Linked DNA regions of Homo sapiens. The protein of the gene in region 1 purifies or fractionates together with the protein of each later gene. This does not show direct contact. Each region holds a gene or a part of one and is shown on either strand. Other genes may lie near its edges.

The links.
Region 2: the proteins of STK17A (region 1) and GNL1 purify together in Homo sapiens (affinity purification with mass spectrometry, with the first as the bait; one large-scale study listed by BioGRID). This does not show direct contact.
Region 3: the proteins of STK17A (region 1) and GPATCH2L purify together in Homo sapiens (affinity purification with mass spectrometry, with the first as the bait; one large-scale study listed by BioGRID). This does not show direct contact.
Region 4: the proteins of STK17A (region 1) and ARK2N purify together in Homo sapiens (affinity purification with mass spectrometry, with the first as the bait; one large-scale study listed by BioGRID). This does not show direct contact.

The regions. Positions count from the first base shown.
Region 1 is NC_000007.14:43,588,048-43,596,070, forward strand, and holds part of STK17A (serine/threonine-protein kinase 17A), read left to right. Parts: intron 1-7,853; coding exon 7,854-8,023.
Region 2 is NC_000006.12:30,547,287-30,555,309, reverse strand, and holds part of GNL1 (guanine nucleotide-binding protein-like 1), read left to right. Parts: intron 1-118; coding exon 119-255; intron 256-394; coding exon 395-546; intron 547-663; coding exon 664-735; intron 736-1,752; coding exon 1,753-1,960; intron 1,961-2,130; coding exon 2,131-2,226; intron 2,227-2,648; coding exon 2,649-2,843; intron 2,844-7,779; coding exon 7,780-7,958; intron 7,959-8,023. UniProt on the Homo sapiens protein: Possible regulatory or functional link with the histocompatibility cluster.
Region 3 is NC_000014.9:76,167,200-76,175,222, forward strand, and holds part of GPATCH2L (G patch domain-containing protein 2-like), read left to right. Parts: exon of another isoform or gene 1-3,999; intron 4,000-4,643; coding exon 4,644-4,820; coding exon of another isoform or gene 4,821-4,831; exon of another isoform or gene 4,832-6,346; coding exon 6,347-6,426; exon of another isoform or gene 6,427-8,023.
Region 4 is NC_000018.10:46,178,285-46,186,307, forward strand, and holds part of ARK2N (protein ARK2N), read left to right. Parts: intron 1-8,023. UniProt on the Homo sapiens protein: AMPK substrate important for exercise capacity and skeletal muscle function.

The DNA.
Region 1 (8,023 bases):
GTAGCTATAGTCACCTCTTCAGGTAAGTAAGAAGTTAACTAGATTTCTTGAGAGAATTTACACATTATGTAGACTTAATAGCTCACCTCCAGAACTCCTGTTCTGATATTTTTTTTAAATTATTATCATTGGTTATATCATAGATCTGAAATTAATGCCAAAAACAATAAAAATAGCCACTGATTATTGATCATTTGCTGAATGCTACACACTTTAAAGATGTAATTTTGTATAGTCTTCACTGCCCTGTATGGTAAAGTGCCATTGATCTCATTTTACAGATGAGGAATCCCAGGTTCCAAAGGATTAATAAATTGCCCAGTATTACACACTTGTTAGCCAGAATTTAAAACCAAGTTTGACTTGTAAGGCCCTGCCTTTTCTTATCACGCATGCTAATGTCTTATTTGAATGGACTCACTGATTTTTACGCCTAGGGTCTTTTCCTTGGTCCTTTCAGCGATAAGGAAGACAAAATCCATTCTAGGTTTTTCCTGAATGGAACTTCTTTACGTTTAAGACATGGCTCACACCTGTAATCCCAGCACTTTAGGAGGCCAAGGTGGGCGGATCACTTGAGGTCAGAAGCTTGAGAGCAGCCTGGCCAACATGGTGAAACCTCATCTCTACTAAAATTACAAAATTAGCTGGGCACACACCTGTAGTCCCAGCTACTTGGGAGGCTGAGGCGGGAGAATTCCTTGAACTTGAGAGGTGGAGGTTGTGGTGAGCAGAGATAGTGCCACTGTACTCCAGCCTAGGTGACAGAGTGGGACTGTGTCTCAAAAAAAGAAAAAAGACATCACTCCAGTGTAATTAGGCAAATACTGTACTTATGTATCAAGTACATAAAAGCACTACCTTAGGCTCTGGAAGCTATTCCCAAATGTAACAGATCAATCACTGTCCCCTTTATAGGCAAGATGATATGCCACTGGAAGGTCTTATGGGGGAAATAACATTTCAGTTGGGCTGTAAAGAATGGATGGAATTTCAGTAGTAGTTGCCATTGTCAATAAAACAGCAAGTCAGAGCAGTAGAAAAATTCAGTGAAGAGAGAATGGCAAGTAGTCCAGTATATTAAATGTCATGAGGTTAAGTTGCCATAAAACTTTTATTTAACAAAATAATAAGCAGTATATATACTAGGTGTGCTGATTATATTTGCACACCTGCCATGTGCAGGGCACTATGGAGATAAAAAGATGAAGAATAAGTGAGGTCCCTGAAACTCACAGTCCAGCTGGGAGACATAGTACAACAAGTTGTAATATATAAGATTGACATAAATATAATAAAGGTATAAACAAAGCACTTTAACCTAGAATAAAACAGGACCTTGGACATTATTTTACTTCCCCTTTGTACTGCTCAAATTAGCATGTGCATTTTCTGATGTTTACCTGAATGTTATATATTCTATTATCTCTTCACCTTTGCTTATAATCCAACACTTGAATTTGTATTTGGAATCCCTTCAATAAATGGGATTCTCTTTACCAAAAAAGGCAGCTCAACCTTCTGTCCAACTATAACTCCTACCACATTACACAGTACTATAACTGGTACCACATTTACACAGTACCTATATTAAAAATCTAAAAGTCATCCATGACTTTCACCTTTCCTTTCTCCTCTCATCTCTGCGTACAACTCACACCTGCCAGGGAGTGCTAATAAATCTTGACTTTGAGTGTCTTTTAAACATATTCTCTCTTCCCAGTCCCTACGCTGGTACTTGAGTGCAGACCTACTGCTTTGAATTATTTTATTGGCCTCTCTGTTTCTAGTTATCACTGGCAATCCACTCTTCACAACACTATTAGAATTACCTGTTTTGTTTTATTTTATTTTATAATTTTATTTTAATTTTATTTAATTTTAATTTTAATTTTATTTTATTTTATTTTATTTTATTTTATTTGAGACAGGGTCTCATTCTGTTGCCCAGGCTAGAGTACAGTGGCATGATCTCGGCAGCCTAGATGTCCCAGGCTCAACTGATCCTCCCATCCCAGCATCTCAAGTGCCAGGACCACAGGTGCACACAACCACGCCTGTCTAATTTTTGTATTTTTTGTAGTGACAAGATTTCGCCACGTTGCCCAGGCTGGTCTCGAACTCCTGGGCTCAAGCAATCCGCCTACCTCAGCCTCCGAAAGTGCTGGTATTACAGGCATGAGCCACCGTGCCCAACCAGAATTATCTTTTCTAAACAATTATTTTCAGTATTCTAATAGGTTCCAGTTTTAAGCCTGATGAAGCCCAAACTCCTTAGCAAACATACCTACCTAAAGATACTCACCCTGTCTCCCTAAGCAGTGTTTTTAGGCACTGATAATGCAAAGGACTTAGGGAGCTCGGACTGGTGGGTCTCAATCAAATGTCACCTCCTCTTGTTATAATTGTTTATGTATCTTACCTTTCCCACCTCTCTGGAATATGTTTTCAGTGAGTAGTTCTGAAATGTATTCATTTCTGATATTCATCCCAAAATATTTAATGAAAACCTAAGTTCTCAGTTTTGTACCTATTAGCAAAATATAGATGTTTTTGAAATGAAAAAATATACCTGAAAATTATGGCAACTGTTTATTCCAGGAAGAAGTTTGGCTTTTGAGTCAACAAAAAAAGTAGATGTGCAACAAACATCTTATGCCCTTTGGACCTCATCAGCCCCAAGAGAGCTGTATATAACCATGGCCCATAATGTCAGGGAAACATCATTTTTAAAATGTTTTGTAGAGGACTCAATAACCTAAAGTTAAAGGTTGAGGTACAGTCACAATTTTTACCATAAAGTCATGGTAAAATATGCATGTTGGAGCCCTTTTGAGGTATGGAATTTAGGGAACTCTGTCAATGTAATTCTGAGCATATACACTGGGACTTTGCAGCTTGAATGCTGAATCTCCTGTTTTCTTTATACAATGTGGCTGTGTAGAACAGCTCCAAGAAATCCGTTATTATCTTCTCTGACTCCTCCTTGAGTGGTTTGAAGGGTCCCCCTCCCATTGCACCAGTCATTTAGAGATGAAGGCATGCATGCTTCCTCAAATCATTGCGACCTGCTGTCATAATGTCAGTTTCAGTGGTATGTGGTATTAGAATGATGGAAGAGTTTTATTCAGCATAGGATAGAGCAGGGGTCAGCAAACTACAGCCAGCCACCTATTTTTGAAAGCCTTGCAAGCTGTTTTTACATTTTTTATGTTTTACATTTTTTAATAGTTAAAAAAATTAGAATAAGAGTAATATTTAATAACATGAAAAGCTTATGAAATTAAATTTCAGTGTAAAAGGTTCATTGGAAGCCAAACATACCCATTCATTTACCTTTCTTGTATGGCTGCTTTTGTTCTGCAACAGTGGACTTGAGTCATTGCTGCAGAGACCCTCTGGTCCACAAAGCCAAAAATATTTACCATCTTGCTTGCCCTTCACAGAAAAACTTGCTGACCCTAGTATAGTACAGGATATGTTGGAAAGAAAAGAATAAATCTAGAACTGTGAGGAATGTTTCCAGAAAAACAAAGGTGGTGTCAGTGTAGTCATTGATATGAAAGGAGAGCCGTGGGAACTGCATTCTAGCACCTAAAGGAATGGGTGAGGAGCATGAGCAACAGATGAATAAGTATGGGGAAGAGGCCCCAGAATTTAGCAATGGCTGTTCTGTAACAGGGCTCCCACAGTTCACAGGTTAGCAATGTGTGTGAGTCCGTGTTTAATTTGCCCTGTTAAATTCTAACTTCTAGGTTTTGATCTTTCATTCTAGACTACTGACATAATTTTGAGTTCCAATTCTGTTTGCTGAATTAGCTGTCTTTCCATTTGGTCTTTAAAAATAGACTTTCAGGCTATGTAATAAGTAGTTTTTTACTTACTGCACAGTACTTTATTGCTTTGAATGTCAGGTGTGGCAACAGTAAACATTTGTGTGTGTGATATGTGTTTGAGGGCCGTTCTACTGAGTCATTTCTAATTTACCAGGAACATGTTTGCTGCCAATTATATGTTGAGACTTCATTTCAGACGAATTTTTTACAAATTAAACTTTCTCTTCTCTTGAAACTTCAGACATGTAGGTATGAAAATATCAAATTAATAACAATTGTTTTCTGTCTTAAAAGAATTCAGAGATCATTGGGAACCTTTTAAAACTTGATGGAGATGTTAGCCTAATGATTTTGTGGGATAAAATGAAAGGTATTAATTACTCTTTGAGGAATTCATTTATAGTTACTCTCTCCCATATCTGTAGAAGTCTTTCATATTTCTGTGAACAAAAGAACTTTTATCTGAATAAGGGTGCTGCTAGGTAGGTTGTTACCAAATTGAACAGCCATAGGGCTATGCTTAAGGATTTGTCATTCCACATTTATATTACTAATGATAAAAACATGGAGGACATGAAAATTATATTTGCAGTTAACAATAGCTGGGAAGGAAGAATTACTCAAAATTATGTCAGTAGTCTAGAATGCTAGATCAAAGCCTAGAAGTTAGAATTTAACAGGGCAGGCCAGGCATGGTGGCTCATGCCTACAATCCCAGCATTTTGGGAGGCCGAGGTGGGTGGATCACTTGAGGCCAGGAGTTCGAGACCAGCCTGGCAAACATGACGAAACCCCATCTGTACTAAAAAAAAAAAAAAAAAAAAATCAAAAAATTAGCTGGGCATGATGGTATGTGCTTGTAATTCCAGCTATTCAGGAGGCTGAGGCATGAGAATTGCTTGAACCCGAGAAGCGGAGGTTGCAGTGAGCCGAGATCGTGCCACTGCACTCCAGCCTGGGTGACAGAACGAGACTGTGTCTCAAAAACAACAACAAAAAAGAATTTAACAGGGCAATTAAAGCCTTGCACTTAATTTTTTAGAAAGCTTTTTAAAAAAATAGATTCAGGGGTACAAGTGCATTTGTGTCACATGGATATATTGGGTCATGGTGAAGTCTGGGCTTTTAGTGTGCTCATCACCTAAATAGCGTACATTGTACCCAATAGGTAGTATTTAATTCCTCACCCCCTTCCCACTCTCTTACTGTTTGGTCTGTTTTTCCACTCTATGCCTGTGTATCCATTTAGTTCCCACTTAAAAGTGAAAACAGGCAGTTTTTTACTTCCTGCTTGAGTCATCTCACTTAGGATAATGACATCCAGTTCCATCCATGTTACTGCACAAGACATCATTTTTATGGCTGTGTAGTAGTCCATGATACATATACACACCATATTTTTAGTCCAGTCATCCACTGATGGACACTTAGGTTGGTATCTTTGCTATTATGAATAGGGCTGTGATTAACATATGAGTGCAGGTGTCTTTTTCATACAATAATTTCTTTTCCTTTGGGCAGATACCCTGTAATGGGATAGCCAAGTCAAATGGTAGTTCTTTGAGAAATCTCTAAACTACTTTCCATAGTGGCTGAACTAATTTACATTTCCACCAGCAGTGTATAAGCGTTCCCTTTTCTTTGTATGTTCGCCAACATTTGTTGTTTTTTAACTTTTTACTAATAGCCATTCCAACTGCTGTAAAGCAGTACCTCATTGTGATTTTAATTTGCATTTCTCTGATGATTAGTGATGTTGAACATTTTTTAATGTGTTTGTTTGCTGCTCTTTTGAAAAAATGTCTGTTCATATAAAAAAAAAAAACAATGAGGTTGTTTTTTTTTCTCGTTTTTTGAGTTCCTTGTAGATTCTGGATATCATCCCTTTGTTGGAGGCATAGTTTGCAAATATTTTTTCCCATTCTGTAGGTTGTCTGTTTATGCTGTTGATTATTCCAAATTTTTTAGCAATCATTTTTAAAATATAGTATGAGGATACTGACTTGATAAAAATTCAAGGTGGAAAAAAATCTAGGTAGTTTATCAGCCCAATTTGAAATATGAAAACATGTCAAGTTTTTTAACAATCAATCTTAGGTTGTATTGTTCCAGGAGCAACAAAAATAATAATGATGTAATGCTTTGATCGATTATACCTGGATTAGTTGCTTCAGATTTGGTTGGCACATTTTCTGCTGAGCCATAATAGGGAGTCAACCTTATGGGGAGGTGGGCATGGTGGCATGTGCCTGTAATCCCAGCTATACAGGAGGCTGAGGTGGGAGGATCACTTGAGCCCGGAAGTCCAAGGCTGCATTGAGCTATGATGGTGCCACTGCACTCCAGCCTGGGCAACAGAGTGAGACCCTGTCTCTTAAAGGAAAAAAAAAAAACCCATGGGGATGGGGATTGATTGCAAATTGGGAAAGGGAAGAGGGAGTGGCAGCTAACAGATGGTGTTTGCTGTGTTCAGTATCTGATAGACTGCCATGTGGAAAAGAGAGTGAGGTCTGGTCTGTACTGCTCAGCAGAGGACCCTGACTGTAACCCTTCAACTGAAGTCAGGTTTAGGCTTGTAATGAAGACCTTATTAAGATAATATGTACCCAGTAGTGGAAAAGATTACCTCACAGTTTGAAATAAGACATTGGCATTTGGTGTTAGGTAAAATACTGTATGATTTCTAAGTTGTCTTTCAACCTAAGGATTCAGTGGATGTTTACGGGTGATGACTATCACAGCTTAATGATGTTTGTGTGATTAGTAATATTTATTGAGCACTTACTGTGTGGCAAGTACCATGCTAAGCAATTGAAATATATTATTCTTTAATTCTTAGAACCCTGTGAAGTAGATGCCATTTGTGTCCCTATTATACAGATTAGAAAAATGAGACTTAGGGCATGGAGGCTCATGCCTTTAATCCTAGCAGGATCACTTGAGGCCAGGAGTTCAATACTAGCCTGAGCAACATAGAGAGACCCAGTCTCTTAAAAAAAAAAAAAAAGAAAGAAAGAAAAGAAAAGAAAAATGAAACTAAAAGAGGTTAAATAAACCACCTAAGGTTACTGTCAAGTGCCACTTATAGGGTTCAAGCCCACATAGGTTTAATTCCAGAGCTCATACTTTTAATCAGTATGCTATACTGAGTCCCTGGTTTACCCACTTATTAGTGTAATGACAAATAGTAATGTATCAATATAACACTTTGTTGTATCTGTCTTTATGAGAAAATACATTTCTAGCTGACGCTCTAGTTAAAATGATAAATGAGTGAGATCCTTACCTTTAGAAAGTGATAGTGCTCTTTAGAGTCAATTAGTGCAGTGAAATTCATCATATTAGGGATTCTGGTGACCAATTTCTATTAAAAAATCAAATGGCTTTTTTTTTTTTTTTTTTTTCCCCCCTGGAGACAGAGTCTCACTCTGTCATCCAGTCTGGAGTGCAGTGGCATGATCTCAGCTCGCTGCAACCTCCACCTCCCAGGTTCAAGCGATTCCCATGCCTCAGCCTCCTGAGTAGCTGGGATTACAGGCATAGCACTACTACACCTGGCTAATTTTTGTATTTTTAGTAGAGACAGGGTTTCGCCATTTTGGCCAGGTTGGTCCAGAACTCCTGACCTCAAGTGAGCCACCTGCCTCAGCCTCCCAAAATGCTGAGATTACAAAGGTGCACCATGCCTGGCTTCAACTGGCTTTTTTAGAGACCTAAATCATTTTATGTATAAATGTGCAAAAAATTAAGTTATGTGTAACTCTGCAAAAAAATGGACTTTAATATTTGTTATTCTTTAGAAAATGAATTGTGCAGGTTTATACATTTTGTTTTATTTGATAAATCTATAAATCTATAGATGTAGCCTATATAAATTTCTAAGTGATGTTTCTACTTTTGTGATTGTATATAAGCTAAATTTGAATATCTACCAATGGGTATTTGGAAATTTCATTGAAATCTGCCATCTCTGGAAAGTTGTCAACTTTAACAGTGAATGTTTTTGTTTAATTCTAGGGGGAAATTTGCAGTGGTGAGAAAATGTATAAAGAAAGATTCTGGGAAAGAATTTGCTGCAAAGTTCATGAGAAAAAGAAGAAAAGGCCAAGATTGTCGGATGGAAATAATTCATGAGATTGCTGTACTTGAACTAGCACAAGACAATCCTTGGGTCATTAATTTACATG
Region 2 (8,023 bases), on another chromosome or scaffold:
GAGGAGACTTGAACGACTCTGGAGAGAATGGTTTGCGAAGTTGATTGTACAAGAGGGGAGAAAATAGGAGTTTGTGGCCACAGGATTGCTCTGGATGTCTCGGTCCCTGTTCCCTTAGATACCGACTGCATTTTGAGAGAGACAGCAGGGAGGAGGTAGAGAGGAGAAAGAGAGCAGCCCGGGAGCAAGTTCTACAGCCGGTCAGTGCTGAGTTGTTGGAGCTGGACATCCGGGAGGTGTATCAGCCTGGCTCAGGTGAGTGAGAGCAAGACAGGCATTGGGCTGGGGAAGGAGTTTGGAAAGGTAAAAGCCGACTGTGAGGAAGGAGGGGTCTGGGATGTACTCTTGAATCCTGAAGATTTCCTCACACTTGGACTTTTTCCTGAATTCCCAGTTCTGGACTTTCCTCGACGTCCTCCTTGGAGCTATGAGATGTCCAAGGAGCAACTAATGAGCCAAGAGGAACGGAGCTTCCAAGACTATCTTGGGAAGATTCATGGGGCTTACTCCTCTGAGAAACTCAGCTACTTTGAGCACAATCTGGAGGTGACAGTGTACTCTAGGGACAGGAGTGGGGCATAGTGACCTATGGTCAAATTGGTTTGGGATCAGGCTGGAGAGGGACTCTGTTTTCAGTTTCTCTTCCTGATCCTGTCTTTTTAGACATGGAGGCAGCTGTGGCGGGTGTTAGAGATGTCTGACATCGTCCTGCTTATCACTGATATCCGACATCCAGTGAGTACTAGGGATAAGGGTGGGCAAGGAGGAGGGAGAAAGGTTTTTCAGGGGCAAAGGTCAGAGGCAAGAGTTGGGAGACAGAGAGGTATCTATCTTCCTGTCTTTCTAATCTCTACCTAGTGCTGATGTCCGCAGTTAGGAACTCAGTTTTTTATTCTCTTATAGCCTGTCATTCCTCCCTTGGCCAGCTCACTCTTCTCTTCAAAACAGCCATGTCCTGTCCTTTAGCTCATCACAGACCAATAGAAAATCCAAGTGTTGGAGCTCCAGGGATTCTATGAATGCAGCTGGGGACTTCCTCCTGCCCAGCCCAAAGATGCCCTTTCTTCCTTATCTCATTTCTCTAGCACTGCCACATCAGTTGCTACAGAACCCACCTGGAATGCTAGAGTAGTAGTTAAGGCTGTAGACTGCTGCTGGACTGCCCTGTGTGAATCCTAGCTCTGCAACTTCACTCTTGTCCTCCAGTGGGAGAAAGGGAGGTCTGTGAGGACCATTTAGGTTGGAGGTCCTTAATAATATGTACACACACATACTCACACGTACATCATGTGCACATCAATATACACAGGCATGTTTGCACACATGTTCACAGTCACATTAACACACAAACATGCACACATGTGCACGTACTTGCATGCATGCATATATGCACGTGTACACACTTACATAGTTGTGCACACACAAAAAAGCAGACTAATTTCTACCCTAACCCCCATCCCTGTTTCCGATCCCAGCCTTTACCTCAGTGTGCTAAGTGATGCTGTTTCCTTGTCTTGTTTTGGGTTCATTTCCATCTCTAATCATGACCTATAGGAAGCCCTCTGAGACTCAGAAGTATTACTAACCCCTGTTTTGTCTTTGTTTTTCAGTTTGTCTGGTTTATAGTTTTTAGCCCAGAGTCTGCTACCACCAGGGCCTTGTCTCTGAGCTACACCTGCTGAGTGGGGAGCTGGAGGCAGAGAACTCTGGGTTGACTTTCACTGCTCCATCCTCTTATCAACTCTGTCCTAGGTTGTGAATTTCCCGCCAGCACTTTATGAGTATGTGACTGGAGAACTTGGACTGGCCCTGGTGCTGGTTTTGAACAAGGTGGATCTGGCCCCGCCAGCTCTTGTGGTTGCCTGGAAGCATTATTTCCATCAACACTATCCCCAGCTCCACGTCGTCCTTTTCACCTCTTTTCCTCGGGACCCCCGCACCCCACAGGACCCTAGTAGTGGTGAGTGGGCAATGAGAGAGGGCAACTTGGGAGAGGTGAGTTGGCAGGGGACAAAGGGGAGAACAGAGAGGCTTATTGACAAGGGGGCACCTGGTCTTGGGCCTAAGGGTGGTGGGAGAGATGAGAGGCCTAAGCCCGTGTGCCCATCCTTTTGTGCCCTCTGATCTCAGTCTTGAAGAAGAGTCGGAGGCGGGGGAGAGGATGGACTCGGGCCCTGGGGCCAGAGCAGTTGCTGAGAGCCTGTGAAGCCATCACTGTGGGGAAAGGTATGTGGCCCTTAGAGGAGGGCTGTAGGAGGACATGGGGGAGACCAAAGATGCAGAATCATTTTGCTCACCTTTCCTGAAGCCAACCCCTCTATGGTGGATATGTGCAAGAGGCCAGGGGAAGGGACAGAATAAGGAGCAGACTGACTTGGTGGGACGAGAGGCAGCAGGTAGTCAGGAGCCTCAGTGGCTTGCTGCCTTTAGCCTTCCCAGTACTTTTCAGAAGCTCAGAGAAACGTGCGTGATTCCAGGGAGGGTAGGGTCAAATGACTTTTGGGAGATTCTCTGACCTGCTCTTATTTAGGTTGGCACTGTACAACTCCAGAGGGTGCCAGTTACATAATCTGTGCAGGGCACAGTATGTGCCATCATGCACAGCAGCCCTGGGGAGAACCTCTTTAATCTTCTCCTTCTTTGAGCAGTGGACTTGAGCAGCTGGCGGGAGAAGATTGCTCGGGATGTGGCTGGGGCCACCTGGGGTAATGGCTCTGGGGAGGAGGAGGAAGAGGAGGATGGCCCAGCAGTCCTGGTGGAGCAGCAGACTGATTCAGCAATGGAGCCAACTGGCCCAACCCAAGAGCGCTACAAGGATGGGGTGGTGACCATCGGCTGTGTGGGTAAGGAAGTGGCAGCTTGTGCGTGGTGGCCTCCAAGGAGGTACAGAGTTTTCATATTCGGAGAAGAGAGAGGGCGATCAGGTCTCATTAGGCCCCAGGGTGTCTGAGGGGTGATCTCTGCCAGTGGCGGTGGGCAAGGCAGAAGAGGCGTCTGCTGCAGTGGAAGGATCATGACAGCCTGAGTTAAATTCCACCTCTTCTCAGCTGTGAGGTCTTGAGTAAGTGATTTTGCTACTCTGAGTCTTAGTTACTTTGATTTTAAAAATAAGGACATTGATACCTGAGTAAAAGAATGGATGACGGCCATGTGTGAGGGCTCATGCCTATATAGTCCCAGCGCTTTGGGAGGCTGAGGTGGGAGGATTGCTTGAGACCAGGAGCTCAAGACTAGTCTGGGCAACATAGTGAAACCCCATCTTTACAAAAGATAAAGAAAACTAGCCAAGTGTGGTGGTATGTGCCTGTAGTCTCTGCTACTTCAGAGGCTGAGGCAGGAGGATCACTTGAGCCCAAGAGTTCAAGGCTGCAGTGAGCTATGATTGTGCCACTGCACTCCAGCCTGGCTGATAGAGACCCTGTCTTTAAAAAAAAAGAATGGATGTGAGGAATGATGGGAATAGTGTTAAGAGAGTGTAAGAATGCCTGACAAATAGTGATAACAATAATAACAATTATTATTGTTAAAACTCAGTATTTATATGGTGCTTACTATGTAACAGGCACTGTTTTAAGTGGTTTATATAAACCATTTGAATTGTAGTAATTAGTCTGTAGTACAGTGATTATCAAATCATAGTAGGAGCTCAGCAAGAATTAGTATTCTTCTAGGTTTTAACCCTTTAAGTTTGTTGCCAAGGAGAATCTCCTCTTAAGGGCTTTGTCTCAGCTCACAGTGGAGGAAAAAGGAATGTATGATTAGGACCCAGGGCCCGTCTTCATTTAGGGTGGGAGAGGTAAGAAGAGACCTTGGACAAGTTATGGTATCTGAGGTGATATTGGAACCAAAAAGGGCCCAACCCAGAATAAATTTGGGAGTGTGGAGTAGGTAGTTGGGTTCCTTGGAAGTGCCCTGACTTATCTCTGTGTCCTTTTTGTCTTTGGAAGAACCTGCCTTACTGCTGAGTGATTGCTCCTCTTTCCAGTCATTTCACCCGGCTGTCCCTTCCCTGACTTCTGATCCTAGTCTCCCTGTCACAAGGAGCCTCTGTTCCCTCTCTTAGCAGCCTCTGCTCTAGCTGATCTCTATTCCAGGTGGTGTGAGAGGGAGAGTGTTTGCTGTGGCACAGGCACCCCTGAGTTTGGATTTCCCTCCAGCTCTCATTCATTTACCCATTCAACAAATATGTACTGAACACTTAACCAGGTGCCAGATATTCTAGGGATGGGACATACTGCTGTGGAAATGGCAAAAAGGTCTGTAGATTCATGGAGCTTATTTTCTTGTGAGTAAATAGATTTTGTGATCCGAAATCATGTAGGGGCAGTGAAGGCAATAAAGCAATGAAAGGGGATAGAGAGTGACTGAGAGGAGAGGTGCTCAGGGAAAACCTCCCTGAGGAGAGAACTGGATGATGAGATGAAGTGAGCCATTCAGAACTGTGGGGAAAGGGTCTTGAGGAGGGAACGGGCTTGGAGATTCTAGGACCAGCAAGAGTGCCCAGGGGATTGGAGTATGGGAGCCAGGATAAAGTACTGGGGATGAGGTCAGCAAGATCACCAGGGCCCACATCATGTAGAGCCCTGAGGCTGTGACAGCCATTTTGGATTTTATTCCAAGTCTCATGAGAAGCCAAGGGTAGGTTTTGAACAGGGGAATGATAGGATCTGATTTTGTTTCTTATAAGTTTACCTCCTGAGTAGAGAATAAATGATGGGGGGTGGGCAAGAAAGGGAGCAGAGAGAGCAGTTGAGGCTATTTCAGTAATCTAGGAGAGAAATAAGAGTTGCTTAGAGTAGGATGCTGGAGCTGGAGGTGGTGAGACAGGGCCGGAAGCATGATATATTTTGAAGGTAGAGAAAATGAGATCGCTGATGGCTTGCAGTTGGCACGTGAAGGAAAGTGAGGATAAAGAAGGACTTCCAGGTTTTTGTCTTGAGCAACTGGAAATACTGAGATGGGAAGACTGGGGGAGAAGCAGATTTGAAGGCTTTGGGGAGGAGAGGGGAATCAGAAATGAAATTTCAGATTCTTTTTAAATATCCCTAGTGGAGATGTTGAATAGGCAGTGGGTAAGTAGTCAGCAGCTTAGGGGAGAGAAGAGGACGGAAATTTGAATTTGGGAAAGATTTAAATTTGGGGAACCATTGATGGATATAAGTGGTATTTAAAGCCACAGGATTAGGCTGGGCACAGTGGCTCATGCCTATAATCCCAGCCCTTTGGGAGGCTGAGGCAGGTGGATCACTTGAGGCCAGGAGTTTGAGACCAGCCTGGCCAACATGGTGAAACCCTGTCTCTACCAAAAAATACAGAAAATTAGCCGTGTGTGGTGGTGCGTGCCTGTAGTCCCAGATACTCAGGAGGGTGAGGCAGGAGAATTGCTTGAATCCTGGAGGCAGAGGTTACGGTGAGCCAAGATCATACCACTGCACTCCAGCCTGGGTGACAGAGCAAGACTTCGTCAAAAAAAAAAAAAAAAAAGCCATGGAATTGGATGAGATGTAGGAGAGAAAGGAAATAGTTGGAGAAGAGGAGGTCAAGGACTGAGCCTTAGGACAAGCCAGCATTTAGTTGGGCAAAGGACAGTGAGAAGGAGGAAAACCAAGGGAGCGTCCCAGAAGTCAAATGAAGAAGGTGTTTGAAGAGGAAAGGAGGAATCAGCTGTGTCAACTGTTGCTGACAGGCCAAATGAGAGAACAGAGAGCTGCTCAGCAGGCTTGGCAATGTGAAGATCCGTGGTTTCAGTGGGGTGGAGAAAGCCAAACTGGAGTAGGCCCATGAGAGAAGGTGCAACAACTTCACATAACATTGTGTGAAAAGAGTCTGACCCAATAGCATCCATACTGCACAATTTCAGTTCTATCAAGTTTGAAAGCTGCAAAATTAAGCTGCATTGTTGAGAGATACACAGGTCATAAACTAAAGAGAAATGTAAGGAGTTGATTTCCTTAAAAGGATAAAGCTTGCATGTATAGAGGGAGAGGATTATGATCAAGAAGGATGAGTGGCGGCCGGTATGGTGGCTCATCCCTGTAATCCTAGCACTTTGGGAGGCTGAGGCAGGCGCATTACTTGAGGTCAGGAGTTTGAGACCAGCCTGGCCAACATGGCAAAACCCTATCTCTACTAAAAATACAAAAAGTTAGCCAGGTGTGGAGCCGCACGCCTGTGGTCTCAGCTACTCAGGAGGTTGAGGCACGAGAATCGCTTGAACCTGGGAGGATGAGGTTGTAGTGAGCCAACATCGCACCACTGCACTCCAGCCCGGGTGAGGGAGTGAGACTCTGTCTCAAAAACAAAAACAAAAAAAACAAGGACAGATGGAACATGTTGTCACACATTGGGTGGTATGGGGTTCATCAGGCTGCACATGTATGTTCTGTGCATTTTTTTGTATGTTGTAGTTTACAGTTACAAAGAAGATAGCAGGAAGAAATGGTGAAAAAAGTAGGTAAGTCTTTTAAGGAGTTTTCCTGCAAAGCGGACAGAGAACTAGGTCTGGTGGTGGTCGTCAAAGGAGAACTTTTTTCTCCCTCCTTCCCTCCCTTCCTCCTAGATACTTGCATGTGTTGTAAAGAGTGAGCACAGTGGTACATCTTTTCTTAGCCACAGTCAGCTGCCCAGGAGCAGTGCTGAATGGGCAGAGCTGGATTTTACAGGGTTGGGATTTTGCCAGGTGAGTAAGATAGAGGGGAGAAGTGGGACCAGGGAGTTCCAGGTCTGTGAACGGGCCTGGCTGAGGAGCTGGATCATGAAATCTGAGTCAAGTAAGAAGGAAATTGAGGACACGAGTTGGGTATTGCATAGTGTTACTGTGTTAAGGTCAGGGGTCAAAGACTTACTGGCATGGAGTAACCAGAGTAAGTGAGCTGGAAAGATGAGTTGTCAGGGCAGAGAGGGGTGCTTGGAATTGAGGCTTTGGAGCTGTGAAGTGACAAGATGCAGGTATTACCATGGGAGTGGGCAGCTGAGGTGGGGTAAAGGAGATGCTCTGTGGAAGGGAGATGAAGGCACTGAAGTCAGCCAGAAACACAAAAACTGGTGGTGGTGAGTGAGCAGAGTGGCAGTGAGCCCCAAGGCTTCCAGTTTTCTCCTTGGACAAGTCATCGTAATTATTATTATTATTTTTTGAGATGGAGTTTCCCTCTTATTGCCCAGGCTGGAGTGCAATGGTGCAATCTCAGCTCACTGCAACCTCCGCCTCCTGGGTTCAAGTGGTTCTCCTGCCTCAGCCTCCCAAGTAGCTGCAATTACAGGCGCCCACCACCACGCCCAGCTAATTTTTGTATTTTTAGTAGAGATGGGGTTTCACCATGTTGGCCAGGCTGGTCTTGAAGTCCTGACCTCAGGTGATCCACCCGCCTTGGCCTCCCAAAGTAATCACGCTGGGATTACAAGCGTGAGCCACTGTGCCAGGCCAAGTCATAGTAATTATGAGATGTGGATCACTGGTACTGGGTACTTACTGTACTGCAGGCACTGACCCACACAAGTTGTATTGGTTATCTCATTTAATCCTGACCACCCTGAGGTAGGGAGGTGTCCACACTGTAAAATGAAGAAACAGAGGCTCAGAAAGTTAGTTGCCCTGACATCACAAAGCTGGTAAGTGGAAGGGCCAGGATTTAACCCTGGCAGCCCAGAGCGTGATTTGTATTCTGCAATACCATTTCCTTAATTTCTGAGCCTTAGTTCCCCTTTTACCTATAGGTATAGCACCAAGTCCCATCACAGAGTAGAAACCTGTTAAACGTTAATTTTCCTTGCCTTCCTCAGGTTTCCCTAATGTGGGAAAGTCCTCGCTGATCAATGGGCTGGTGGGGCGGAAAGTCGTGAGTGTCTCCAGAACCCCGGGCCATACCCGATACTTTCAGACCTACTTTCTTACCCCCTCTGTGAAGCTCTGTGACTGCCCAGGCCTCATCTTCCCATCTCTTCTGCCTAGGCAGTTGCAGGTATGACGGGGAGGGTGGGTAAGGGAAAGAGAGAAGGTGGGACATTGAGGAAAGTACTGAGTGCT
Region 3 (8,023 bases), on another chromosome or scaffold:
CAAAGTAAAACTGGAGTATAGAGTCCTGTGAATAAGGCTGGTATAGTTAATTACCAGTTCTTTATTTTTACTACCTAAACACTAATTTAAAACTTTGCCTATATATAAGGGTATTTTAGAAAATGTTTGTCCTCTAGACTTGTGTGGGGCCACATGCCAATAAAAATTTTATGTAGCCTTTTTGGACTGTGGTTTTCTTAATCTAAATAAGGGATTTAGGGATTTCTAAAGTCTCTTCTCACTCCGAAGTCCAATAATTTTTCTCCACGGGTTAAGCAATTAAAGGACAGACGTAGTGGCTACATGTCTAGGTTGATCCAAGTAGGCTCCCCAGTAACTGAAGAGATACTGGGGCTGTGAGACTTAGCATCCAAGTCCTGATTTTTGGAGAAGGACTGTGGGGCCAGCATCTTGTTCATGCCTCGAAGTTGTAGGCATAGAGGCAGTTTATCCTCCTGGAGTTGTTGAGCTTCCTACTGTAATGGAGGTTGTTGTGAGTACATTTCTATCTTTTAGATTCTGAGGGAATTAGGTGTCATTAGAGATTATGTGTGTGTGTGTACAGGTAGGCTGTAACTAGAGTTTTGATTTTATTATACCAGGAAAGTCTGATGAGTTTCCATGAATGAGTTATATATACTATTCAGAGTTACCAATATTTGCTCTTTTTCTTTGCTTTTCTACAGTGCTAAGAATATCAAAATGCACCTCTTAAAGGCTATGATGCATAAGTATAGAGATGGAAGAAAGTGTGGACCTGTTACAGCAGATTAGATTTTCGGGCCTTTGGAAAGCCTTTTCACTGATAAGGATTCCTTAGTTTATCACGAGAGATTATAGAATGTTCTGTACACCTAGCTTTCCTCTCTTTCTCTGCTTCAGCTTCACACATTCTGGTGACATTGATGCTTAGCGTTCTCAACGTAAAGCTATGGGATTTCTTGCTTCTCTGCCTTTGTTTATGCTGGTCTTTCTGCCTGAAATCTCATCCTCATCTTCCTTGAATGACTGGTCATCTACCAAGACACAGTTTTCCTCTTGCCCCTGCAAGGGCATATTTATGAACTATATCAGTGGGTCTTCTTGGTTTCAATTTCTTGTTGGGGTTGGCCTATAGGAGGCATCAACAGAAGACCAAAGGGAGGGAGGTGAGTGATATTGGATATATTAGTCAAGTATTTATTGTGGTAATGCTGCTTAACAGCCCCCAAATTTTAGTGGCTTCTCACAGTTTACCATACTCATTTCTTGCTATGGGGCTGTGAGTTGTCTGTGGTTCCACTGATCTTGCCTGGGCTCCACTGGTCTACAGGCTTCAAGTTAGGTTTACATCTACTCAGTGTATTGTATTTTGGGACCTAGGGTGGAGGAGCAATGATGATAGGCGGCATGGACTTCCTATGGCAGAGGATGTAAATGCCAGGTGACCAGGCTAGACCACAAGTACATATTTAAAGCCTTTGCTTGAATCATATCTGTTAATTTTCTACTACGTAAAGCAAGTCATATGACCAAGCCCAGAGTCAGTAGGATGAGTAAGTGTGCTCTTCCTAAAAGGGAAGGTACTGTGGAATCCAATGGCAAAGAGCAAACGTCATGGATGGATGATTCTGCTATAGAGAGTACTTGGAAATGCTAATGCAGTCTACCACATTAGATTATTGCTTTCCCTGACACCTTTTCTGTTGGATTGCTGGTTGGCAGTGGTTGTGTTCCTCTGCTGAGGGCCACCACTCTTGTTTGGCAGCCTTCTTTTATAACCACAGTTCTTTGGGTTCTGATAACCATTCTTTCCCTTGCCACTCCAAGTCTAGGAATGGTAAGGGCCTCCTGCTGTGCTGGCTCCACCTGATGTGCTTCACTATCCCCTTGTGGGGTTCCTTGTTAGTACTGTCTCCACCTTTGTGAATAGTCACTTCATTACATCTCTGCAATGACCCCATTTAAATGTGCCATGTGTTTGCTGAGGGGGTTCTGGCCAATAGCCCTTTCTCCTTTGTTCTCTGTGGCTCCTTGTATTATACTTACTGTTTCTTTTACTACTCACTAGATTATGTTATTGTTTGTAGGTACGAGTCTTTTCCCTTGAGGCTTTTCAAGGCAGGACTTATTATGTGCAACCACAGTACCTAGCATGTTCCTGGCATATAGTAAATGTTTAATAAATAATTATTTATAATCCAATTAAGGGGAAAACTCTCCTTTTTTTCCCCCAAACAAAATCGAACATAGATTCTCAGATTGTAAAACAACTAAGCCTATTTGGTTTAAAGCAAAATTCTAGAGGAGCCAGAGGTCAGGAGCCCGATCCACCTAGCTTCTTGCTTATTCCCTGGCAGCGCTCTTTTAAGGAGCTCCTCTATCAGGCATCTTAGTGAACCCTGATTGAAGACTGCTGGTCTATGTGGTCTCACAACGTTCCTTCTAGTTCAGGGAGTCCCTTTTTGTATTATTAAAAATCTTGAATGACTGCTTGAGAACCAAAAAAATTCCATTATAGTTTGCCATTTGTCGTCAGAAAACATGGCCTAATTAAATATACTATTTCAATAAATGGCCTAAGGAATGCTTATGAATAAGAAAAGAATTAATATATTGAAGTACAGAGAAACTAGTTATTATACACTAATGCCTGTATTCAGTTCATCTATGTATCTGGTTTCGTGAGATGCTTTTAGAGTAGCGGTTCTCAAAACGTGGTCCCCAGGCCAGCTTGGCATCATGAGGGAACTTGTTAGAAATACACATTTTTGGTCTTGCCCAGACTAGAATCAGAAACTCTGGAGTAAGGGCTCAGCAGTCCATGTTTTAACAAGCCCTCCTGCTGCTTCAGATGCATGCTCAAAGTTGAGAACTACTGTAAGAGAGACAGCTGTTTGTGGTGTGTTTTTATAAGGGAACACTTTGAGTAACTTTCTTAGTTGTAATATCTCCTGCTTTTCACCAGAATGCAGTTTTCATTGCCCATTTTGGAGATCTCCACAGTGATTTAAGAGTTATTATCCTGCGTGTTAATGACCCATGAATCTCATACTTCATGGGATTGACATTTCTGAGCAACTTGTCTGGAATCCAGTGTACATTAGAGACTGACTACATTATGAACTCTTTAGATATTCTTGTAATAATTTCCTTCAATTTTGCTATTTTGCAAGGGGTATGTGGTGGCAGACATACAATTATCTATTCTTTGTTGGCAGGAATAAACTCTAGTGGAAACTGAGATACTATCACTATAGCCAGTAGAAAGAAGTTTGTACTACCAACAGTCTGGATATATGGATCTGGTTGTGACTTTGCTGTTAATTAACAAATGGCCTTGGGAAAATGGTATAACTTATTGAAAAGCCTTAGGGGATTATGTTATTTGTTGCTGTGGTTATTTTTTTTTTCCGCAGTAGCTTGGATTTCTAGTGTCAAGATGATTTCTGTCCCATTAATGAGATACCAACGATAAATGAAGTATGGACATATATTCTTTATTCACCTTTTATGATAAAGGCAAATATAGCAAGAAATCCCTCAGGTATAGCTAGCTTTGAATTGAGAAACATTTATGGGTTTTGAACCTCCAAGTTTATACCACTGAGAATGGTATAGGGGAGGCAGTTTGTTTTTGTAATAAAGATCTCAGGCTTTTGAGTTAGTCAGGCTTTGGGTTCAGATCCTGGCTTCATTGTTTACTAAATTGACCTTGACTTCTCTAGGCTTTAGTTGCCTTGTTTGTAAGTTGGAGTTAGTGTAGGGCTTGGAAGAGATGACATATTTACAGATTTTTAGCATGGATCCTGGTAGGTTGTAAGGGTTTAGTGAGTGGTAGCTTTATTTATTTATTTTTAGCTATTAAAGCGGTCCAGTCTAACACAGTATGACATTTATGTGAAACCAGGTTGGTGTTCCAGTTTTCATTGTAAAATGAATCAAGAAGGACCAGAACAATGCCTTGATTTATTTAAAAGTATAATCAGCCTGTAATTCCAGCACTTTGAGAGGCTGAGGTGGGTGGGAGGATTGCTTGAGCCCAGGAGTTCAAGAGCAGCCTGGGCAACATAAGGAGACCCAGTTTCTACAGAGAATTAAAAAAAAAAAAAAAGACTGGGCGCGGTGGCTCACGCCTGTAATCCCAGCACTTTGGGAGGCCGAGGCGGGTGGATCAGTTGAGGTCAGGAGTCCAAGACCAGCGTGGCCAACATGGCAAAACCCCGTCTCTACTAAAAAAATACAAAAATTAGCCAGGCATGGTGGCGGGCGCTTGTAATGCCAGCTACTCAGGAGGCTGAGTCAGAGAGAATTGCTTGAACCCGGGAGGGGAGGCGGAGGTTACAGTGAACCAAGATCACGCCACTGCACTCCAGCCTAGGCAACAGAACAAGAATCCATCCCCAAAAAAATAAAAAAATAGCCAGGCATAGTGGCATGAGCCTGTGGTTCCAGCCACTTGGGAGGCTGAGATGGGAGGATTGCCTGAACATGTGATTACGCCACTGCATTCCAGCCTGGGTGACAGAGCAAGACTCTGTCTCAAAAAGGAAAAAAAAAAAAAAGGATGATCAAAACTATGGCACTAAGAAATCATCCCTCCCATTTGTTTTTCTCAGACCTTGTTTAAAATTCTAGCTTATGATATGATGTCTTTACTTTAGGTGATGACGAACAGAGTGATTGGTTCTATGAAGGAGAATGTGTCCCAGGATTCACTGTCCCTAATCTTCTGCCCAAGTGGGCTCCTGATCATTGTTCTGAAGTAGAAAGAATGGATTCTGGATTGGATAAATTTTCAGATTCCACATTCCTTTTACCTTCTCGGCCAGCTCAAAGAGGTGAGTTCTGAGGAGACCAAGAACTTAATGCTTTTATGGTTCTCCTTGGGCAGAGCAATCACCCCCTAGCAAGCATACTCATGCCTTCAATCACACATTAACTATCTGAATTTTGGAGCTAGCTCAAGGATTTTCTAGAGGAGTCAAAGTAAGTCTCAAAGCTTAAGGTTCTCTCCATTCCTTCCTAAACTAATCCATGGAAACTCCTGGGACATATATATTATCAGGAGATTCCTTCAGCTTGCCATTGCCGTTTGTGCCAGATTTAGTGACAGCTGCTTATCCTGATGTGAAACTAAGAGGTTATTGAGTATCGGATTTTGGAAGAGAACAGATTTCAATAAGAACATTCACATACATATTCTTATTTTCAGTAAGAGTATTCACATATAATGGTGTTTTTAAAACGGATGCTTTTAAAATAATTTAAGTAGTTTTATTTTAATGACCCTATTGGGACTTTAACACAAATATGTTTCCTTTTCCCTTTGCTTTTTCTTCAATTATGATGTAGCAAAGTGGGTGGAAAGAACCTAGGACAGAGAGATGGAAATGTGGTGCTAATACTCTGATACTGTCTACCAAGCTCTGTGATAGTCACTGCATTTTCCTGGGATGACAGGGTCATCACTTACGATATGTGACATTGGACAAAACCATTTCTTTTAGCACTATAAATTTATGATTCTAGGGTTCCCAGTAACCCATAATCAACCAGTTAATCAGTTGCCAAGAGTTTGTTGAACATCTGTGGGTGATCAGAATCACACTACGAGATGTAAACTTGTATTATGTAGGATTTTGTCATGGTGAATTTTTGTTTGTCATGGTGAATTTTTGTCATGGCGAACCAGCAGTTGGTGCTTGGTAAAGACTAGCTGAGGCACACATTGCTTTATTGAACATTTTGATGAACATTTCTAAAAGTTTCTAATGGACCACTTAAAATATATACAAACAAGCAAGAATAGTGAGAAGAAACTTAAAATGGCCTATAATCTCATATCCAGAGACAATCTCATTAATAACATTTTGGTGTGGTTTCCTCCAGTTGTTCTTTCCTTGTGTAGAACACATGCAGCAGTGAGAAAAATTGGGTTATCCGACACGTGCTATTTTCCCCATTATGTCATGAATTAGAATGTTTTTGACGTACAAACTAACATTTAATTTTAAATTAAAAATTATTAATAGTACCTTATGTTTGTGTGGTGTTTTCAGTTTATAAAGTCCCTTCTGCTTGCTATTTCATTGGGTCTTCAAAACAGCCCAGTAAGGTAGGACTGAGTGATTATCCCTCTTTTATAGATGGAGGATGCCTAGGTCAAAGGTAAATGGCATGCCTGTGATCATACTGCTAGTGACAAAGACCTGGGAATAATAAATCCTTGGCAAATAGCTCTGTGATGCTAGTTTAAAGGTCAATCTATTAAGATCCTGGGGGTAAAGCCTTCAGTGTACTAGAAACATAGGATTGCATATGGATTTTCTGCATTCGGTATCTGAGGCCTTCCTTCTTTTTTTAGGGTACCATACTCGCTTGAATCGTCTACCTGGAGCTGCAGCTCGATGCCTCAGAAAGGGGCGAAGAAGGCTGGTTGGGAAGGTGATACCTCTCACAGTTAGCTTGGCTCAGTGGGGAGATAATATTCCCTATGGGAGTTGTGTATCCTATTAACAATCAGAGGTGCTACAGAACTCCCTGAAGTTAATGGAGCCAACTGGAATGTGTTGGGAGTTTACAAGAGTGAACATTATGTAGAATGTGAATGGATATACAAATAAAAGATGAAACGTAATTCATATAGAAGTACTGACAAAAAAAAAAAACACTGTCATTACAGTGTCTATTGCCTGTAAACCTACAAGCCTGAGCTGTGTCTTCTGTAACTTTTGATTAATGTTATGTTATTATTGTGTAAGTTAAAATACTCTTGGCTTCTTTATGACTCCTCTTGAATTCATGAATGCATCTTTGTTCTTTCCTAATTTTGGTCTTTCATCCTAGAATTCATTAAAAAAAAAAAACAAAACTGTTACTGAGTTTCAAGAGCCCCTCCTTGGCCATGAGGGAGAACTATCTGCTGTTTATTCAGTTCTGCCTTTGCCAGGGATGGTACTAGGGACTCAGCTCATTTAATCCTTCCAGCAACCTACAAGGGCAAGCACCTTCAGCAGATGAGGAAAACTTAGGTTCGAAGAAGTTAAGGAATGTCTGATGTTACCCAGATAGGAATGGTAGAATAGAGATTTGAACCCAGGTCTACTTTTATCTTTTTACATTTTTATTGAATTTTATTTTTTACTCTACTTTGAGATTGAGGAATAAATTAAGACAGGGCTCATCCTCAGTCAGAGAAGATGGTGGTGGGCAAAGAATAAGGAAGGGAGAGGCATTGAGAGCATTAATTTGTTTGTTCACTTGGTAAGCATTTAGAATGCCTGCTAGGTGGCACAATATGTGCCACAGTCTGGCTTCCCTTAAGGGGATACTGTTTTATAGTCTGACCAGGGAACAGTTTTCTGAAGTTTTAAGCATGCAAAAGAAATGAGACTGTTTATTTCCAGACGAGCCCAAGATTCTTATTTCTTTTTATCTTTAAATTCAAGTTCAAATCTTTTTTTTTTTTTTGAGATGGAATCTCGCTCTGTGACCTAGGCTGGAATGCAATGGTGCGATCTCGGCTCACTGTAACTTCCTGCCTTCCAGGTTCAAGCAATTCTCCTGCCTCAGCCTCCCAAGTAGCTGGGATTACAGGCGCCCCACCATGCCTGGCTAATTTTTTTGTATTTTTAGTACAGATGGGGTTTTACCATGTTGGCTAGGCTGGTCTCAAACCCCTGACCTCAGGTGATCCACCCGCCTCGGCCTCCCAAAGTTCTGGGATTACAGGCATGAGCCACCGTGCCCGGCCTCAAGTTCAAATCTTGAATTAGAAGACATTTGATTATTGGAAAACTGATACCTTTCAAATTACTCATTTTACAGACAAAACGCTGCTTTTTCTGTTTTGGGAGCTTATTGTTAACAGGGATAGCTAGCAGAATAGCAGTACATGGGGTGGAAGAAGGAGAGGTTTTACTTTTATTGTTTAGGCTTGACAGATAATGTTCCCCCTGCCACCTGTGTTACTTTCTTTCAGCTCTTATAAAATAAGAGCCATCCACTTCCATGGAAACAAGTCACTTTATCTTGAAGGTTT
Region 4 (8,023 bases), on another chromosome or scaffold:
AGAATGAGATAGGCATTCCTTTTATTTTTATTTATTTATTTTTTTTGAGACAGAGTCTCACTGCGATGCCCAGGCTGGAGTGCAATGGCACAATCTCCGCTCACTGCAATCTCCACCTTCTGGGTTCAAGTGATTCTCCTGCCTCAGCCTCCCGAGTAGTTGGGATTGCAGGCATGTGCCGTCATGCCAGGCTAATTTTTGTATTTGGTAGAGACAGGGTTTCACCATGTTGGCCAGGCTGGTCTCGAACTCCTGACCTCGGGTGATGCACCACCTCGGCCTCCCAAAGTGTTGGGATTATAGGCGGGAGCCACCATGCCTGGCCCTGACATAACTTTTTAAAGATTTTTCTGGGGCTACGTGCAGTGGCTCATGCCTGTAATCCCAGCACGTTGGGAGGCTGAGGCCGGTGGATTGCTTGAGCCCAGGAGACCAGCCTGGGCAACATGGCAGAACCGTCTCTACAGAAAAATTAAAAGATTATCTGGGTGTGGTGGCACACGCCTGTAGTCCCAGCTACTCAGGAGGCTGAAATGGGAGGAGCAGTTGAGCCCAGGGGTTTGTGGCTGCAGTGAGTGGTGATCATGCCACTGCCTGAGACTCTTTCTCAAAAAAAAAAAACAACAAAAATATTTTTCTTTATTATCCTTAAGTTGAGTGAATACAAATTTTTTTTGAGATGGAGTTTTGCCCTTTCACCCAGGCTGAACTGCAGTGTCAGGATATCTGCTCACAGCAACCTCTGCCTCCTGGGTTCAAGTGATTCTCCTGCCTCAGCCTCCCGAGTAGCTGGGATTACAGGCGCGTGCCACCACACCCAGCTAATTTTTTATATTTTTGGTAGAGACGAAGTTTCACCCTGTTGGCCAGGCTGGTCTTGAACTCCTGACCTCAAGTGATCGCCCACCTTGGCCTCCCAAAGTGCTAGGATTACAGAGGTGAGCCACTGAGCCCAGCCCAGTGAATATAAATTTTATTGGTTTTATTTATTTTAGTTTGGTTTATTTATTTTGATTTCTTGGTCATCAGATTAAATAAATCTGATAGTTATTTTTCTTTAGTTGTCAATTTCCAGTCTTGGTTTTGAGTTTGACTGTTGTCATGATACTCTTCTGAATCCTTTTAGCCTTTACCTGTACCTCTTTTCCTTACTTTTTCAGAACTCTTATGATTCCACTTAAAGAAGCAGTGTTTTTTACTTCTGTGTGGGCAGCTTCTCTCAGCAGAAGTGGGATTGATGTTCAGTCAGTCAGTTTTCACACTCAGCCTACAGGGCCTTGTAAAAGTAAGGAGCAGGAGCAGGGTGAAACTAAAAAGTAATCTTGCTTTTTTAAAGTTATCTTTTTTTTTTTTTTTTTGAGACGGAGTTTCGCTCTTGTTGCCCAGGCTGGAGTGCAATGGCGCCATCTCCGCTCACCGCAACCTCCGCCTCCTGGGTTCAAGCGATTCTCCTGCCTCAGCCTCCCGAGTAGCTGGGATTACAGTCATGTGCTGCCACGCCTGCCTAATTTTGTATTTCTAGTAGAGAAGGGGTTTCTCCATGTTAGTCAGGCTGGTCTCAAACTCCCGACCTCAGGTAATCTGCCCGCCTTGGCCTCCCAAAGTGCTGGGATTACAGGTGTGAGCCACTGCGCCCGGCCTAAAGTTCTCTTCTATATTCCTGAACTGCTAGGAGAGGAAACTATGTGATCTATGTGTTATACAGATTTATCGGAACATATTTGTAGCAGCTGATAATAGTAAATGTGATTTTAAAATACTTTAAAGTAGCCAATATAACTGAGATTTGATAAGTTGTTTGATTAGTTGTTAGGAATTTTGGCTTTAATTTACAGTGTTTTAAGTTTTGTTTCTGTTCTCTTTCATGTCTGTTCAAAATAAGGGACCTCATTCCTCTTTGCTCAGACTCTGCCACTTAATAGGTAGATGGTGTAAATTCCTAAATTATTAACTTGACTTTAAATAATTTTAAAACCTACCTAAATGAGTATTTTCTAGTTAAGTGACAATTAATCTAAAGTGGAAATCTATCAGCAGGGACTTAATGCATATGTGGTATTTATACCTGGTTAAATTAAAAACCCATTTACTGAGCATTTACATGCCAGGTGGTAATGGGCACATAAAATAAGCAGTTTGGGGCAGGGCACGGTGGCTCACGCCTGTAATCCCAGCACTTTGGGAGGCCGAGGCGGGCGGATCACCTGAAGTTCGGAGTTTGAGACCAGCCTGACCAACTTGGAGAAACACTGTCTCTACTAAAAATACAAAATTAGTTGGGCATGGTGGCGCATGCCTGTAATCCCAGCTACCCAGGAGGCTGAGGCAGGAGAATCTCTTGAACCTGGGAGGCAGCTGTGGTGAGCCAAGATTGTGCCATTGCACTCCAGCCTGGGCAACAAGAGGGAAACTCTGTCTCAAAAAAAAAAACAACAATAAAAACAAAACAAGCAAGCAGTCTCTGCCCACAGAACTCAACCTAGTGAACCAGATGATTTCTGAGTTTCCTTCCTGCTCTAAAATGTGGAGAAGAGAAAGTAGATTATAAGGGAAAAAAGTACTGCATAACAAAACAACTGTAGTATGGAACTAGTGTTTTCCCTTATAAATTCATTTTAAATAAGGTATTAGAAAATAGCATTTTTCTTGGTATCTCTAAGCTTTAAAAGGCTGGAAACTTAAATGTCGTTTTTTGGGCTGGGCATGGTAACTCACGCCTGTAATCCCAGCACTTTGGGAAGCCGAGGCAGGTGGATCACAAGATCAGGAGTTCGAAACCAGCCTAGCCAACATGATGAAACCGTGTCTCTACTAAAAATACAAAAATCAGATGGGTGTGGTGGTGCACGCCTGTAATCCCAGCTACTTGGGAGGCTGAGGCAGGAGAATTGCTTGAATCTGGGAGGTGAAAGTTGCAGTGAGCAGGGATCATGCCATTGCACTCCAGCTCTGGGCAACAGAGCAAGACTCCCTCTCGGGAGGTGGGGGGGGAAATGTCGTTTTTTTGTAATGCCAGTTCATTTACAAAATACATTTGCTTGTAATTCAAGTTCATGTATTAAGTTCTGATTGTTGTTCAGAGAGAAACAACATTAAATCTGTTAAAACTTAGAGCAGCCATTCCTAAGAATGTATATAACCTAGAATTGTGCCAGGCATGGTGGCTTATGCCTGTAATCCCAGCACTTTGGGAGGCTGAGGCGGCGGATCATGAGGTCAGGAGATCGAGACCATCCTGGCTAACGTGGTGAAACCCCGTCTCTACTAAAAATACAAAAAATTAGCCAGACGTGGTGGCGGGCACCTGTAGTCCCAGCTACTCGGGAGGTTTGAGGCAGGAGAATGGCATGAACCCAGGAGGAGGAGCTTGCAGTGAGCCAAGATCGCGCCACTGCACTCCAGCCTGGGCGACAGAGCGAGACTCCGTCTCAAAAAAAAACAAAAAACTAGAATTGTGCTTGGGTAGTCTAGAAATTAAGTTTATTTTGATTGATTGATTGATTGATTGAGATGGGGTCTTACTATGTTGGCCAGGCTGGTCTCCAACTCCTGGGCCCAAGTGATCCTCCCATTTCAGCCTCTCATAGTGCTGGGATTACAGATGTGAGCCACTGTGCCTGGCTGAAATTAAGTTTTTATTAGCATAATTAGCATTAGAGAAACAAGATACTGACCAAAGTGACCAGTAGAAGTTATTTTTTTACTGAGTTGACTAGTTTAAAAAAATGACCTTTACAATAATGTCTGGAGTCTGCATTTTGTTAGGTGCCTTATAATTAGAGAAAGGTATTGTCGGGGATAGGGAAGTTGGGTGTGGACTAAAATTTAAGGAAAACAGGATTGTTTTTCTTTCTGTATTAAGAACAAAAACTTCATGTGGTTAAAATTTTAAGCAGTATCCTGTCTGCCTTAGTTTTAACCTAGCATAGAATCATAGCTTGTTCTTAAATCAACAGTTTAGTGTCAAGGGTTTCTTACTATTTTTCTCTGCTGAAATCAACTAAGCACTTTGCAGTGAGCCTGAAGGTGTGTATAGTGGAGAGAATTTTGGCAGCTTTTATCTTGGGACCTCAGTTCCTGGCATGTGGTTATCCATCTTTATGTGAATTGTCTTCTGAAGGAGATAGAAAATGACCAGGGCAGAAATCTTGGAGAAAATTTAGAACCTTTGTTTTAGGGCCAGGCATGGTAGCTCACACCTGTAATCTCAGCACCTTGGGAGGCAGAGTTGGGAGGGTAGCTTGAGCCCAGGAGTTTTAGACCAGCCGGGGCAACAAAGTGAAACCCTGTCTCTATTAAAAAATTATTTTTAAAAATTAAAAGAACCTCTGTTTTAAATTATTCTTGATTTACACTGATGATGCTTTTGAGTACTTTAGAGAGTCATTAGCCACAGTGCTTTTTTTTTTTTTTTTTTTTTGCATTTGATAACTTCTTTGGCTTCTTACTTGATGCTAGTTTATTCACAGCCCTGGTGCAGGTCCAGGTACATGCCAGAAGTAGTAATATCTGCAATATGAAGTGATTTGAGCAGCCATTATCACCTTTGACCTATTTATAGAGTTTATATCAGTGGAGAAAAAGTTGGCTGGCAAGCAAGCAAAGCTGATCTCTGGTGGTTGCAATCTCACAATTTATATTTAAGTTCCGGGTAGGCCAAATTCAGTGCATTATGGACAGATCCATTCAGCTGTATTAATATTAGAGTTCCCTTTCTGTACTCTAACTTTTTAGCACTCCAGTTTCCCAGTCAGCTTCACTGTTGAAGGAAAGAAAACCGAAAAACTTACCACACTAAAAAAAAAAAGGAAGAGTTCCTTAATGTAATATGATAGTCAGTGTTCAGATTTCCCTCTTATCTCATAAATGTGTCAGATCAAGAGCCAAATAAGGTCTCTGCATTGTTTTGTAATCTGTAGGTTCCCCCTCCATTTCTTTTCCCTAGCAGATTATTAGTTACAAAAGAAGTTTTCCCAGTGTGGATTTAGCAGTTACATTCCTTTGGATTTCTGTGGTGGTGGTGGTAAACGTTTTTCTCTGACCCCTGGGTTTCTAGTTAATTGGTATTAGATTTAGAAGCTTGATCAGATTGTTTCTATAATATATATTCTTTCTCTTGCTTCTTTTGCAGGGGATGAGGGGAATACTTTATAGATGGTACTTGGATCAGTAGGTGCATAATATTTGGTTCCCTGTGATGTTAGTAGCTGTTGGTGATCGTTGCCCAGTTGTGTTAATTTGTTACTCATAATTCCTTACTCTGAATGGGGCATCCTCTCTCATCAGTCCTAGTTTGAGTCTTTTATGCTTGTTTATAGCTTCTTCAAACTTTTCTTTCTTTTGAGGATTAAGGGAAGGGATGAGTTGCTGTGGAGAAAAGGGCTCTTTCTACTATATTGTATTTCTGTAAGTGTTTTTTATTTTAGTCCTAATCTTTGGTTCTTGCATTGTCTGCATTGTCTATGCTGCAGCTTCTTGGTGGGAAAACTGACTCAAAATCCCAGCAAATAATTGAAAGAAGTCCTTCAAAACCAAATTTTTAAAAAAATTTTTTTCTGAGTTAGAGTCTTGCTCTGTCGCCCAGGCTGGAGTGCAGTGGCGCGATCTCAGCTCACTGCAACCTCCGTCTCCCGGGTTCAAGCGATTCTCCTGCCTCAGCCTCCTGAGTAGCTAGGATTACAGGTGTGTGCCACCATGCCTGGCTAATTTTTGTATTTTATTTTTGAGACGGAGCCTCACAGTGTCACCCGGGCTGGTGTGCAGTGGCATGATCTCAGCTACTTGCAACCTCTGCCTCCTGGGTTCAAGCGATTTTCCTGCCTCAGCCTCCTGAGTAGCTAGGATTACAGGTGCCTACCACCACGCTTGGCTAATTTTTGGTATTTTTAGTAGAGACGGGGTTTCACTAGGTTGGCCAGGCTGGTCTCGAACTCCTGACCTCGTGATCTGCCTGCCTTGGCCTCCCAAAGTGCTGGGATTACAGGTGTAAGCCACTGCGCCCAGCAGTTTTTGTATTTTTAATAGAGACGGGGTTTCAGCATGTTGGCTAGGCTGGTCTCGAATTCCTGACCTTGTGATCTGCCTGCCTCGGCCTCCCAAAGTGCTGGGATGACAGGCGTGAGCTACTGCGCCCGGCCTCGAAAACCAAAATTTATGGCCAGGTGTTGTGGCTCACACTTGTCATCTCAGCACTTTGGGAGGCCAAGGTGGGCAGATGGCTTAAATACAGGAGTTTGAGACCAGACTGGGTAACATAGTGAAACTCCGTCTCTCCTAAAAATACAAAAATTAGCCTGGCTTGGTGGCATGCGGCTGTAGTCCCAGCTACTCAGGAAGCTGAGGTGGGAGAATCACCTGAGCCTAGGAAGGTAAGGCTGCAATGAGCTGTGATTGTGCCACTACACTCCAGCCTGGGTGATAGAAGTGAGACCCTGTCTCTAACAACAACAACAACAACAACAAAGATTTAGGAAGATGAGTATTATGAATGCAATGGAGTCTCTTCATAGAATTGAATGTGTAAGGAGAGGGGCCTTCATTTGAATTTTAGTAAGATACTGCTTTCTACCTCATTTTGTGGTTATGTAGCCAAAGATACTTAGTTTCATAGTGCCTGATTCTTGCATATTTGCGTATACACACACAATCACTTTAAATGCAGTATTCTAAATGTAAGGAAACAGCTTTACTAGGCTATTAGCAGTTGAGTCAGTTTTTGTCTTAGGTTTTATGTAGAAAGAAAAGGGAAGTTACTCTGTGAGAAATCATGTTGATTCTATGTAATGGAATGTATTTTCATATACAAATGAATAGTACTTTTAAGCAAACAAGTTGTTTCATTAGTGGTCTTGGTTTAAAAGATTCAGTTGATCAATTCAACAAATATCAGATATTGATTATGTGTTAGGAACTGTGAGTGAACTGATACTGAACATGATCCCTGTTTTCATGGGAGATGCAACATAGAGGGCTGAGGGAGTAAGTAAAAACATTTAGGTGCATAATTTGTTTCTTTTCAGTTGTCTTTCTCATAGTGTGCTATTTATTCTCCTCCCTCATGTATAAAGTTAACTCTTAACTTCTTGGGCTTAAATTTCCTCTGATAGCTCTGTGTGTGCACATGTGCCACAGTCAGAAAAATCAGGTAATAATTGTTAGGTGTTAATTTTCTTGGATGATTACTAGTATTGTGATTGTCTTCCACCATTGTCATAGCTCTCTACTGTGCTAGCCAACTTGTCTAACTGAAATAACTTTTAAGTCTTTTTGTGACAATTGCTAAAGCCAGCAGGAAGTAGGTCCACAATAATGTTTGAAAGCCCTGCTTCATTCTAGTTTTATCTTCATGCATTGCAATTTGTCTCTTGTTTTCCAGTCTGCATATTCCCTATCCTCAATTCTTGTTTAAAAAACCAGGTAAGGCCGGGCGTGGTGGCTCATGCCTGTAATCCCAGTACTTTGTGAGGCCTAGGCGGGCAGATCACTTGAGGTCAGGAGTTTGAGACCAGCCTGGCCAACATGATGAAACCCCGACTCTACTAAAAATACAAAAATTAGCTGGGCTTGCTGGCTTACACTGGTAATCTCAGCTACTCAGGAGGCTGAGGAAGGAGAATCGCTTGAACCCAGGAGGTGGAGGTTTCTGTGAGCTGAGATCGTGCCACTGCACTGCAGCCTGGGCAGCTTGAGTGAGACCCTGTCTCAAAGAATAAAAATAAAAAAACAGGCAAAACTTCGAAAATACCTTAAGTTGGGCATTTTGGACAGGGAGGGGGGGCATTTTTTTGAAGTGTTTAGGTATAGAATAGGCAAACTTTCACAAAGAGCTAGGAGTGTTTTTATTTTATTATTTTTATTGATTGATTTAAAAGTTTATGGAGAGTGGTTTTTAAAGATGGACAGCTGATTATCATGAATTTTTTTTTTTTTTGAGACAAAGTCTTGCTCTGTCGCCAGGCTGGAGTGCAGTGGTGCTATCTCGGCTCACTGCAGCCTCCACCTCCCAGGTTCAAGCGATTCTCCT